2 linked regions of the Homo sapiens genome follow. The protein of the gene in region 2 interacts with the protein of the main gene of each other region in a biochemical or structural test. Each region holds a gene or a part of one and is shown on either strand. Other genes may lie near its edges.

The links. The genes of interacting proteins can lie anywhere in the genome.
Region 1: the proteins of CYFIP1 (region 2) and TCERG1 form a complex in vitro, tested with the Homo sapiens proteins (one study listed by BioGRID).

What each region holds. Positions count from the first base shown.
Region 1 is NC_000005.10:146,457,308-146,464,334, reverse strand, and holds part of TCERG1 (transcription elongation regulator 1), read right to left. Parts: coding exon 7,000-7,027; intron 5,452-6,999; coding exon 4,998-5,451; intron 2,318-4,997; exon of another isoform or gene 2,239-2,317; intron 785-2,238; coding exon 542-784; intron 1-541. UniProt on the Homo sapiens protein: Transcription factor that binds RNA polymerase II and inhibits the elongation of transcripts from target promoters. Regulates transcription elongation in a TATA box-dependent manner.
Region 2 is NC_000015.10:22,914,364-22,921,390, reverse strand, and holds part of CYFIP1 (cytoplasmic FMR1-interacting protein 1), read left to right. Parts: intron 1-2,532; coding exon 2,533-2,699; intron 2,700-3,455; coding exon 3,456-3,603; intron 3,604-4,077; exon of another isoform or gene 4,078-4,379; coding exon of another isoform or gene 4,380-4,760; coding exon 4,761-4,914; intron 4,915-6,508; coding exon 6,509-6,665; intron 6,666-7,027. UniProt on the Homo sapiens protein: Component of the CYFIP1-EIF4E-FMR1 complex which binds to the mRNA cap and mediates translational repression. In the CYFIP1-EIF4E-FMR1 complex this subunit is an adapter between EIF4E and FMR1.

The DNA.
Region 1 (7,027 bases), on a different chromosome or scaffold from region 2:
TAAAAGCTTACTATCTGGATGTGGAGGGCACAGGCTCAAATCTCAACATCATCACTTATTAGCTATGTGACCTTGGGCAAGTAATTTAACCTGTCTGTGTACCTATCTCGTAACATGGGTTGTAAAAATTAAAGGAGTTAATGCATGTAACATGCTTACAACAGTGCACTGTATATAAATCATCCAACTTGTGTTAGCTATTGTGACGTGATTTCTCAACTTCATAAACTCAACCCTTCAAAAATATTGCATTTAGAACATTATTTACATGAAAAGATAATCATTTTTAACTCATTGAGGGCATTATCCAAAATAAGTGTAGCTTTAAATGTGGCTCTAATTTTAGGACATGTAAACAACAACAAAAAAAGGACATTTACCAAAACTTAAGAGAAAATATTGCAGTTAGCCATGAATCTTTCAAAAACGTTTCAAACAGGTGAGATTCAAGGCAAATTTCAAACGCAACAGACACATGAGAACAAACTAACTGACAATATGAAAACATAGCTGGAAAGACCATTATAATCTGTTGGTTTACCTGGAAGTGGAATTGGCATGCCAGGAAGGGGAACACGAAACGGAGGTACCATTACTGGTGGAAAAGCAGGTATTGCTGTTGTTGGCTGAGGTACTGAATGAGGAACAGCAGGAGGTAACGTCTGAGGGTGCGGCTGGGGAACGGTTTGCACAGGTGTGGCTGTAGGAGCAGGAGTTGAAACACTAACTGTAGGCGTGGCAACTGAAACAGCAGAACTTGGGGTCTGATCTTGTGTTGTGGGTGCTGATAAAAGATAAAACAAAAACATGTATCACTCCTTCATAAATCATTTTACTATATTCATTCATCATTTACACATTCAGTAATTTAAGTATTTAAGGGACCATTCTATGCACTGCAAGAAATTTGTCAAAAGGTCTTATCTTCAAGAAGCTTGAAAATACTTAAATGAAATACAAAAATGAATACAAAGTAAAATGGGATAAACATATAGGAGTAAAAATCAAGACCCAAAGAACATTTCTAACTGTGAGAGGGTATAGAAAAGTTTATATTGGGATGCTGCGCCTTGAAAAATTAAGATTTCAACAAGAAAAACAGCAGGAAGGGGTAGAAGAAAAAAATAAACCAGTGAGAAAAGTATGAATAAGGCAAAGAGTAAAGAACCAAAAGGAATTGTTTAGAAAATTGAAGGCAAGCAATTAATGAGTGAAACAGTAGGCATACCAACAAAACTAGTGAGTTGTGTGGCTGGAAAGGTAGGCCAGAAGCAGAAATTAGAAAGCCTTGAACAAAAGGCTAAGGAGTATGCCCTTAAATGGATAGGAAAAGGGCAGAACTTAGGTAAATATAGAGAAAATTATCTAGTAGAATACAAGACAAAATACATTAATGGTAGTTACCCTCTGTGAATGCCTCTTTCACATTTTACTATTAATATATACGTTTTGTTAGACTTTGAACTTTTTATAAGAATGCATTCACATTATTTATGTGATTTCATGAAGGTAAATGGGTATATAGCAAACTAAAGGTTCCTGTATGGAAGAGTAATAAACAGGTTTCATTTGATGAATTAACCTCACAGATGCATAGGAAGAAAAGAACAGAAAAAGATAAGCAAATAACTAATGACTAACTGGATATGAATGAATGGAATCAAAAACAACTCAGGTTTCTCTCATTATTTTAAAAAAATAAAATTTTTTTAAACTGAGGTTTCCATTGTGAGAGACCAGGAAAATGTGAAATTCAGGATCATTTGGGTTCTGCTAACACATTATTTTTAAATATCGAAAATAAAACATCCCATTCCTAGTAATTGCATTTAAAATCAAACTAAAAACTAAAATCCTTATTTCATACTTTTCAGTTTCAATTCTCACATGTTACAAAACAATTTTGTTATTTATTCATAACCCATCTAGTTCCAAAATAAAATTCATTTTGGTAATTCATTGGTAACAAATACTTCATCTTTTTTTGATGTAAAGAAAAAAATGTCTACCTGTATCGGACTAAGAATGAATTTGTCAAATGAAATAAAATGAAAACAGTGCTTTCCCAATCTTTATGCCAACTTTGTTCTAAACAAAAGCACACTATTTAATACAAATCACCCAATAATCCAACTGACAACAAAATCTGTCAGTATCTTTTTCTAGCTTCTAATAATGAAAAACTCACTTAGGCTGGGAAGATGTGAGCAATTTCGTACTTGTTAATGAGGGACTCACCTTGGCTAAATAGACAGCAGGGCCAAACAAGTATCTTCAGGGGCCCAGGAATGAATTGTTGGTCTAGCATAGACCTAGCCTTAGGGTACAGTATCATATTAATATAATTTTATAACAGTGTGAAAAATACAAAGTACATGCAACATTTGCCCAGTCCCATACATATACCATTTAGCATTTGTAATCTACTATACTGGCTGAAAATGTATCTGGTCATTGTTCCCAACTTCCCTGAGAAGTAGGATTTCTTCATCATTTTTCACAAACTTGCACAAAATGAGTTTATGCTCAACTGGGATTAAAATATATTCTTAATTTTTAGTCCCATTTACCCCACAGATCTATACTGTAGCTCAGAAAATTAAAATTTAAATATTATTATAGTATTCAGATAATTGCTAAAATTGTGATCCAAAGTACTATAGTCAGGAAAATAAATAAGGGCATCAAATTTCAAGTGGAAAAGAACACCAATGGAGATGACAAAAAATATTTACAACCCATTCCTCTTACTTTCCAGCACAGCATTTTCTGAATTTGATTAGCAGCCATGAGTCACGACAGGAAAAGAACAAAAGCAATAAAATAATGGGAAACTGGGAGAATGGTATCTAAGACTTCAGTGGGTAAATTCCCACTAACTTCATTTGCTAAAGTAGCTAGTGAAGCACTAGGCCTCAAAATATACTAACCCAGCCTCAGATCTTAACTAAAAAAGACAAGTGACTATATATAATAGATGGAGAAATATTAAGATTGCAGTAAGACAACACTTTATGATACTAAATCAAGTAAAATAAAAACACACACTGGAATACGTAGACAACATCAAAATTGATGTTTAAAAGCAGTAAAAAGAATATGATTTTGCTATATTATATTTCTGGGAATAAAGTCCTCCCAATCACTGAAGAGTAAAGCAAAACTGACAAACAGGACACAAGACAGCTATGAGCTTACTGACACACTACTCTGAAAACAGACATGGACTATATATAGTATGGTTAAATTATCTAGCTCATCACCTTTCCTAAAACAAAACGAAGCACTACTATTTCTCCTTTCTAAGAACGCAGGAAAGAAAATGTAAGCAACACAGAGCCTCCACATAAAACTACATTGCTTTTATTAATCCCCTTCTCCCATTACTACCACAGGTCTCCCATAAAAACTGGTAGTCTCCTGCCTTGCCACAGAGGTTTGGGAAGCACTAAACCTATAAAAAGGTAACAACCCTTAACAGACTAGCTAGTATGACTGTTATACTTTCATATCAAAATTCACCTTCACTACAAAAGCAAACAGATTTGTAAAACACTATTCATATTTTCCTGTTCAGTACATTCCCCCGCTACAAAATGTCTAAAAACCATTAAGAGGATCTTTAAAGGCTATCCCCATATTATATGTACCTTACTTGACTGCTTCAGTTGCTTTTTATCAATAAAATAAATTCAAATTTGAAGCCAATGTGAATTAATTTCTCTCTTATACGTATTTCTTACACACTAATAATTCCCAAGTCCCTGAAGTAATCACAAAAAAACCCCACATTTTTTCTTTATTCTTATCAATTATCCTGGTAGTAAAATAATACAAATTATAATCACACTGTAGGGACAGCTGTGTATCTTGAGACAAGTGCCATAACAAATAATCAAATAAAAAAATCATTATTTAAGTACTTTCGGGCTTAGTCTCAACCTGCAGAGTAAGGAGCAACATCCATATATTGATACAAAAAAAAAAAGAAAAAAGAAAAAAAGAAAGAAACCCCCCAAAAAGAAAGCAATATTGTCACATTAATAACAATCTTTTAAGCAAATTAATAGCTGTGTCCCTCTCTTAATCTCTGAAATCTGCTATTAATCGACTCTCACCTTTTCAGAAAAGATCTACTCTTTGGGCCTCTGTGAGTTTACACCTGAAAATTCTCCTGCCTTTCTGACTGCTCCCTTCTATGGCAACTCCTCAATTCACCTACTCGCATCCCAGTCTAGAAACTATTCTAAAAGAGATTACTGAGAAGCTCCTAATAAACCTCCCTTATTTCATCACCACCCAAAAAACCAACACCAAAAAAAATCCTCCAAAATACTGCATTTATACAGGCCCCCAGTGCCTGTCTCACCTATTTGCCTAGTTCTTAAGACCCTTCAAAAAAAACACCCTCTCACCTCAGAAGTTTCCTAAAAACCCATAAACTACATTTATCATTTTCCTGACCTTTATTCATGTTGCTTCTCCTACCTGAAAATCCTTTCCTTACCTGTGAACCTGCTTAAACCCTACTCCGTTTCCTTCATGATAAATACCCATGTAGTCCACCCACTCATTTATCCACTTCTCAAATTCTTACATCTTTCTCACTGTATAGTTTTGCACACCAATATCTAATTGTTTAACACGTGTTATTCTTGCCTCCTCGATTAGGAATACTGGAAACTGTAAGGTAGGGACCAAGACTTACACTTATTTTGCAAACCCACAATGCCCGGCATTACTGTTGGCCAAGTGGAACAGCTAACTTTGCACTTTCTCAATTTAGCTTCATAAACTGCAACTGGGCAAATAATTTCTCCTGTTAATATAAATTCCTGTTTTCCTCTAACCCAAAAGTTTTAGTGTCAAAAATGTATTTTAAATAATTCTGGTATTAAAGGATAATACCAGAAACACTGGGATCAATATGAAATGTAGTCCCCTACTTGTTCATGTCTCTAGCCCCTATATAAAAACACATGCTGAGTGGTACTCACTTGATACTGTCTGCGCAACTGAAGTAGCAGTTGTTGTGGTAGAAGTGGTAGAGGAAGGGGTGGATGATGATGTTGAAGTGGATACTGCAGGTGCTGGGCTACTGGTCGTAGGGGTGGAAGCTCCAACTGCTTGTGCTTGCACTTGTGCCTGGACCTGGGCCTGGACCTGAGCCTGGGCCTGGGCCTGAGCTTGTGCCTGAGCCTGAGCCTGGGCCTGGGCTTGGGCTTGGGCCTGGGCCTGGGCCTGGGCCTGGGCCTGGGCCTGAGCCTGAGCCTGGGCCTGAGCTTGTGCCTGGGCCTGAGCCTGCGCCTGGGCCTGAGCCTGCGCCTGGGCCTGAGCCTGAACCTGTGCCTGGGCTGCAAGCATAGGTGTCAGTTCTGATTGCTGAATAACCTTAACTCCATCTGGCTTGGTCCATGCAGATTCACGTGTCCGAGCATTATAATAATAAACCTGCAGCGGAAGCAAAAATCAATGGTATCATAAAATCTGTCAGTTATTATTAAAAACAAGAATGGAACCATATTTTATCTTTAAAGCTATTTAAAAATAACGTAGGGCCAGGCGTGGTGGCTCATTCCTGTAATCCCAGCACTTTGGGAGGCAGAGGCAGGTGGATCACTTAAAGTCAGGAGTTCAAGACCAACCAGCCTGGCCAAAATGGTGAAACCCCATCTCTACTAAAAATATAAAAAAATTAGCCAGGTGTGGTGGCCGGCATCTGTAATCCCAGCTACTCGGGAGGCTGAGGCAAAACAATCACTTGAACCCAGGAAGTGGAGGCTGCAGTGCGCCGAGATCATACCACTGCACTCCAGCCTGGGTGACAGAGGGAGACTCCATCTCAAAAATAAAAAATAGCTGGGCGCGGTGGCTCACACCTGTAATCCCAGCACTTTGGGAGGCTGAAGTGAGCAGATCACCTGAGGTCAGGAGTTTGAGACCAACCTGGCCAACATGGTAAAACCCTGTCTCTACTAAAAATACAAAAATTTAGCTAGACGTGATGGCAGGCGCCTGTAATCCCAGCTACTTGGGAGGCTGAGGAAGGAGAATCACTTGAACCCGGGAGGCGGAGGTTGCAGTGAACCAAAGATCGCACCACTGCACTCCAGGCTGGGTGACAGCACGAGACTCCATCTCAAAAATAAAAAAATAAAAAATAAAATAAAATAAAATAACTTAGGGCCAGGCACAGTGGCTCACGCCTGTAATCCCAGCACTATGGGAGGCCAAGGCGGGTGGGATTACCTGAGGTCAAGAGTTCGAGACCAGCCTGGCCAACATGGTGAAACCCTGTCTCTATTAAAAATACAAAAATTAGCCGAGCATGATGGCAGGTGCCTGTAACTCCAGCTACTCAGGAGGCTGAGGCAGGAGAATTGCTTGAATCCAGGAGGCAGAGGTTGCAGTGAACCAACATTGCACTACTGCTCTCTAGCCTGGGCGACAGGGTGAAACTTCCATCTCAAAAAACAAAAACAAAACAACAAAAATAGGTAATTCCACCCCACAGCCCAATTTTCTATAATGAGCACAAAGGAAAACCCATGTTATGTTTTATGCAGAAATTCAACATAACAGACCTGAGACAGCTATCTGTAGAAAGCCCTGCTGACCCTTATCTGGAGTCCAAGAACTTGGATTTCAGGAGGGTTGACATTCCCTTACTGATAAGAATGGCTCGATGTGCCTAAACCAGCTACGCTGAACACCTGCTTTCCTTCTAGGAGCCTGGAATTTGGTATGTGCTAGGCAGATGGTACCAATGTGACCAGAAGCTTCCAGAATCACAGGTAAATGTGTGTTAGCACTCCAGGCAACCTTATATCTGCTGCACAAAAACTAAATCCAGTCAGCTTCTCCTGAAGTCTTACCCCATTCCCTGCTCACCCAGGGCTCATTCTTAAATGACAGTATCACTGACCTCAATCTGCCAGAACTCTTTAAGTTTTACTCCTCTGTCAACAAATGACAACTTAAATATATTTTATTATTTACCTTCCCATCTGGAGTTTTATTTTCAACC
Region 2 (7,027 bases):
TATTTATTTATTTATTTATTTTTGAGACAGAGTCTCGCTGTGTCACCTAGGCTGGAGTGTAGTGACGCCATCTCAGCTCACTGCAACCTCCACCTCCCAGTTTCAAGCAGTTCTCCTGCCTTAGCCTCCCAAGTAGCTGGGACTACAGGTGTGCACCACCACACCAGGCTAATTTTTGTATTTTTAGTAGAGACGGGGTTTCACCATATTGGCCAGGCTGGTCTCGAACTCCTGACCTTGTGATCCGCCTGCCTCGGCCTCCCAAAATACTGGGATTACAGGCATGAGCCACTGCGCCCGGGTGCTTTTAGTTATTTTTCTTCGATTTTGGGGGGGTTTATTTTGCTGTTTTCTATAAATTAGTGATGAATGTTTGATAAGTATTATGATTTTTATCCTTTTTAGTTTTCTAATGCGTGCATCTAAAGCTCTCAGTTTGCTGTTAACTTGCCTTTTCCTTCTTCCTGTAAGTGTGAATATGTAGGATTGTTATGTTCACTTAAATGGGTTTTTCCTCGTTTGGTTTTTTAAATAGAACTTTTCTTTTTTGTTGATTGGAAAAACAATATAAAATCATCAGTTTTCCAAAGTAAGCATGCTGAAAACACAAGCATGGCATTAGGAAGGCACAGTGCCTGCGGCGCCATCACAGAGATGGCGCTGAGCAGCTGGGTGCGTTTTCTTCCAGACTTTTTCCTTTCTAAAATTTTCATTATTTTAATTGCATATAGACCATGAGTCTTACATGAAAGCAGTCTATTTGGAAATTCTTTACGTTATAGAAGGATGAATTAAAAGCAGACTGTCAACTTTTCCACCTGAAAATTTCATGAAAAAGAAAAGCACCAAAATCATATAAGCCATGTTTCAAGTACTTGTCAGACACGTCTTCATTTACCCATGAATCAGGCTGTTTATAAAGCCATAATGAGGAACTCAAAAGGTGTGAATAAAACCAGAAAGTGATAGAGGGAGACTGTGTGAAGCCTTGGGGAAACACATTTGTGTTCTTGCTAAGTGAACTTCAAACCAACAGATTTAATAAAAGTAGGAAGATGCCTAGCCAAGCATGGTAGTGCATGCTTATAGAACTAGTTACCCAGGAGGCTGAGGCAGGAGGATCGATTGACCCTGGGAGTTCAAGGCTGCAGTGAGCTATGATCATGCCACTGCACTCCAGTCTGGGCAACAGAGTGAGACCCTGTCTCAAAAAAAAAAAAAAAAAAAAAAAGCTGCCTTAATTTTGAATCTGTCAAATACTTAATTTCAAAAGGTTTTTTTTGTTTGTTTGTTTTTTGTTTTTTTTTATTACTGTGGACTGAAGACCATTTTCAGATGTTGAAGTAGGGTTTTTGTTTTGTTTTGTTTTGAGACAGGGTCTCGCTCTGTCACCCAGGCTGGAGAGCAGTGGCATAGTCATGGCTCACTGCAGCCTCGAACTCCTAGGCTCAAGTGATCCTCCTGGCTTAGCCTCCCGAGTAGCTGGGACTATAGGCTCATGCCACCACACCTGGCTAATTTTTAAATTTTTTGTAGAGATGGGGTCTGGCCATTTTGTTCGGGCTGATCTTGAACTCTGGTCTCAAGTGATTCTCCCGCCTCAGCCTCCCAAAGTGCCAGGATTATGGGTGTGAGCCACTGTGCCTGGCCAAAGAAGGGTTGTTAAGATTTTCCCAAATGTATTAGTCTTAGGTACAGCGTTCTAGTTAAAAGATAAAAAGAAGTGAATTATGTTTCACTGGTGCTATTAAATGTTCCACTTTGGTGTCTTATATGTCAGACATCCACACGGCAGGGTGGACTTGGGGTAAGTGTGTCTTGCTCTGCCTCACTTGCTGCTTTCAGAGAGATTTCTAGGCCTCACATAGCTATCATGAAGTTGGCTGTAGAAATATTTATAAACGGCAAAAGCCGTAAGAAAGCTCATGCAATTGTAAAGGTCATACTTGGTTTGTGACCTTCAATTGTTTATTCAGAAAGTAATAAAGCACACTGTCATGACAAAATTACTGTCTGGAAACAGGGAAATAATGAGCCCTGGCACCATTTTTCTGTCCCAGGAATTCCTTTGGAAGCTCTTTGTCATGTAATTATGTTCCATCAGAGTCTTCCAGGCTTTTTCTGTGAATGGTAGTTCACTGCGCCTTTGTTGTGAACAATATGGGATTTGGACTACAACCTCTTGTAACTTCTTTTTCTAGTAATATCATGCCTGCTTTCCTGAGTCTTTTTCTTCTTTCCTATTTGAATTCCATCACAGGAGGGTGTGCTGGGGTGGATGCATGTGTGTTTCGAGTCAGATGCATCCCTGTCCTCCAGGTGCTCATGGTCTGATGGGGAGTCAGATGCGGGCACAGTTCCATTGACTATGGCTTTGGAGAAGACGTTTTGGGGCAGGGCAGCTGCAGGGCACGAACGCGGGAGGGCGTAAGGTGCTGTGGGCGAGGAGGAGCAGCCCCCGGCATGTGCCAGGCAGAGGAGGCTTGGTGCCATCCCTAAGAAGGGCCGTCCCTGTTGCTGTGTCCCCCGCAGGTGATCGCCATGATCAAAGGCCTGCAGGTGCTGATGGGCAGGATGGAGAGCGTGTTCAACCACGCCATCCGGCACACCGTCTATGCCGCACTGCAGGACTTCTCCCAGGTGACCCTTAGGGAGCCGCTGCGGCAGGCCATCAAGAAGAAGAAGAACGTCATCCAGAGGTCAGCCTTCCCCACGCCCTGTGCCCGCTGTGCCCACACGTCCTCGGATGAACTTGGATTCAAACAACAGGAGCGTTAAATTCTCAAAAATGATTTCAATATATTTATCTTCAACCTTCAGATGCCCTCTTGGTGAATTACCTCTAAAAGTAATGCATGGGTCCAATTATTAACCCAAACAATGGACAGTAAGTCAGCTGCCGAGTGTCTAGGGAGTCTGAGGACCCCGGGACAAGGTGCATTTATCCCAGGCTCGCGGTGCCTGTGGTTCATGCATGGTGCCTTATGGGGGTCTCTGCACGGTGGAGCCCTGTTGGTGATGAGGCTGTGTTCCAAACCAGTCGAGAGACATGGCCAGGCTCTGGTCATGTGGGTGACTTCACATTCCTGTTGGTTACTGGGGACAGCCAGCTGCGGGCAGGCGGGGCCCAGCTCTGCTCCGTGCGGAGGCTGTGTTCTGCCCTCTCCCTGCCCACAGCATGACTCAGAGCCACCTCACTGCTGCCCTGGGCTAACAGATGCGAACTGGAGCTCAGGGCAGTCTTCTGGGGGTAGTAATACTCTCCAGAAGGCAGACTCCTTTTTAACTTTCCTGTTGAGCTGGTCCATTACCACATCCCTCCATGGCCCCCAGAGTAATTTGTATTTTCATGGGGGCTGTTCTGAGAGCCTTGTAGTTGGGTGAGGAGATGGTGTGATTGTGAGGCTGGAGGTCTCGGCCTCTGGGCCTTGCTGATCACTTGGTGGGGTGTTCAGTGTCCTGCAGGCCATCAGGAAGACCGTGTGTGACTGGGAGACGGGGCATGAGCCCTTCAATGACCCAGCCTTGCGGGGCGAGAAGGACCCCAAGAGCGGCTTCGACATAAAAGTACCACGCCGCGCCGTGGGACCCTCCAGCACTCAGGTTCTCGTCCCTTGAGCCCCGCCTGCACCCTCTCCCTGGGGGGACCCACCCTGAGCTGTGAGCGGGTGGGGCTGGTGAGGCCCGGGTTAAATGAGGTCCTCGCTGCCTGCTCAGGCAGAGAAAGTGGCGCCTGTGGTTTCTGCTGCTCCTCTGTTTCCCACCCAAGTGAGTTGGGAGCGTGAGGAGACGTGCCTTGATTGTCAGATGTGTCATGTGCACTAAAAAGGAGTCTGACTCCATTTCAACTCCCATCCCAAAAATGTGGGCACAAGTCCACGTGTCTGTATTCATTCTGTGTTTCTTGATGGGTGTTTGAATGTCTGTATAATTTTTACGTTGGGTCTGCAAATGACTGTAGATGGGGCGTGGGAAACTGTGAGGTGCTGCTTGCGTGTGTCATGGTCCTAAGCTGCCCACTGTCCTCTCTCCTGGTGTGTTCAGGCCTCCCCGAGGTGCTTCTCACGACTTTCACACCCGGTTTAATCCACACCGCTGCGTCTGTCCTCCGTCCTGGGGCTGGTCTTCTCCCTCATCTCTGCCGGAGGCTTTTAATCTCTTCTGCCACTCTTCTGGAAAGTCACCAGCAATGCACGCTGCTGGCTCTGCAGGAGGGTCAGGGGGACGGCCCTCGGCCTGTGCGTGGTGCCAGCCACCCTCCCTGCCTCCCTCTGCGTGCGTCCCGTGTCCCTGCCTGGGGTGTGTGTGTCGAGTGACTAACGTCTCTCTCCTGCCTCTCCCTCCTGTCTGTCCGTGTCTAGCTCTACCTGGTGCGCACCATGGCCGAGTCCTTGGGCTCTGCCGAGCTGCTCAGGCAGCTCAAGTCTCTGGGCATGGAGAGGCTCTTGCATGCGGTTAACACGTTTCTGAGGCAGTCGTGCACCTACCTACCCCTTTTAACCTTTGGTGGTAAGACATCATTTGTTTCTCTTGACGTTTATGGCACGGAGGCGAACTGCTCCGCTACAAGTTGTTCTTTCCCCAAAGCAGCAGCAACGTGGCCGCGTAGACAGGCACCCGGACCCCTCGGGGAGCTGGTGCGGGGCCCTCCCGACCAGGGCGTAGCGGAGCAGTCCTTCTCTCATGGGCTTTTTGAGTTTGGCATAACTAATGTACCATGTATATTTTCTCCCCCACAAATGTTTCCTTGGATAATCCAGCTTTACATGGTGAGAACCATGCTAGAGTCCCTCATTGCAGACAAAAGTGGTTCCAAGAAAACCTTGAGAAGTAGCCTTGAGGGGCCCACCATATTGGACATAGAAAAATTTCATCGAGAGTCATTCTTCTACACTCACTTGATAAATTTCAGTGGTAAGAGATACTGCTGAGCAGCATCCGGCCTGGCATGTCCTAACACCACTAACACCGTCTAGAATGCTTCCGCCCGCCTGACCACCCCCTACCCCGTCCCTTGGTGCACCCAGACGGTGACTCGTCCTGCCCTCTGTGGCGGTGGCTGTACGTCCCTGGCCTGAGCTCGCTCCACAGGGCGTGGTCCCTACAAGGGTATAAACTGAGGAGCCCGGGCTGGCCCTGAGACATGAACAGAAAATCTTTTCAACCCATGCGGGGTTGGAAACAGGCGAATGTAATCTGGTGCCTGAGTTGAGACACAGGCATTGATAAATACTAGAAATGGCCCTTGCAGACCATGACGTGGGGGGAAGGTGGCGGGTGCCCTGTGCCAGGCAAGCCCATCCTGGGTGACACCCGGCCACCTTGACCGGCCACCGGTGGGTGCGCTCTCTGCCCTCCGTGTGTCTGTCCCGTGTTCTCATCAAGTCCTCCGTTGTCCACCTCTTGCTCAGAACAGGATCCCTGCTGTCTTGGCTGGGGTGCTGCGAGGTATTGGAGGAAATAGTACCACTTTTGCTGTTAACTCCATGAAAGGATGGAGTTCGAGTGTGGGCTCTTTTAATCTGTCTCATTTTTGCGTTAGACAGACCTCCCTGAGTGTGCCTCTAATGCTGCAGCCTGGACATTGGTTTTTATCCTAAGTGAAAGTGAAGAAGTCCTGTTTTTTTGTTTTGTTTTTTGTTGAGACGAAGTCTTGCTCTGTCACCCAGGCTAGAGTACAGTGGGGCGATCTCAGCTCACTGCAAGCTCCGCCTCCCAGGTTCAAGAGATTCTCCTCCCTCAGCCTCCCAAGTAGCTGGGATTATAGGTGCTCACCACTGCGCCTGGCTAATTTTTGTATTTTTAGTAGAGATGGGGTTTTACCATGTTGGCCAGGCTGGTCTCAAACTCCTGACCTTGTGATCCACCCGCCTCGGCCTCCCAAAGTGCTAGGATTACAGGCGTGAGCCACTGTGCCCAGCCAGAAGTCCTGTTTTTATGTCTCCTTTTGAGAAGAACATTTTTAGGTAAGACACAGTGGCTCATACCTGTTAATCCTAACACTTTGGGAAGCCAAGGCAGGAGAATCACTTGAATTCGGGAGTTTGAGACCAGCCTGGGCAACATGGCGAGACCCCCATCTCTATAAAAAATACAAAATCAGTTGGTGGCACGTGCCTGTGTTCTCAGCTACTTGGGAGGCTGAGGCAGGAGGATCGCTTGAGCCCAGGAGTTGAAGGCTGCAGTAAGCTATGATCGCGCCACTCACCTCCAGCCTGGGTGACAGAGTGAGATAGACTCTGTCTCAAAAAAAAAAAAAAGACACTTTCCCCCTGGATCCCACTGAAGGGCTCACAGGGTTGATGAGGTGGCTTTACCTGCAGCTATGCCCAGCTGGTCCTGTCCCTAGTGCAAGGCCCCGGTGACCCCTCCCCACTCATGTCCATGCTGCATGGCTTGGGGCTGAGCGAGGAGGAGCAGGCACCCAGCACACAGCCCTTGTGTCATCTCTGCTAAAGGTTTTTTTTTGCTTGCGGGAGATAACATGGAGTTGTTTGAACCCTCCCAGAAACGCTGCAGCAGTGCTGTGACCTTTCGCAGCTGTGGTTCCGAGAGTTCTTCCTGGAGCTGACCATGGGCAGGAGGATCCAGTTCCCCATTGAGATGTCGATGCCCTGGATCCTGACGGACCACATCCTGGAGACCAAGGAGGCATCGATGATGGAGTGCGTGTCCTGCGGGCCTGTCTCCAGCCTTTGTGTGTGGTGACCGGGGGTCCTCAGAGGAGGTGGCGGAGAGGCCGGGACTGTTTTTAGTATTGTATTTGAAATCAAGTTTCTGGGCCTGGGCAAAATAGCAAGACCCCAGTCTCTACAAAAATGAGAAAACTTAGCCTGGTGTGGTGGCTGATGCGGGAGGATTGCTTTACCACAGAAATTTGTGGCTGCATTGAGCTATGGATTGCACCACTGCATTCCAGCCTGGCCACGTAGCAAGACCCTGTCTCCAAATAAAAAAAAAAAAAAGAGAAATCATGTTTCCTGGGGTAAAGCTTTAGAGATTAATACAAGTAACTAACCAGTTTCTT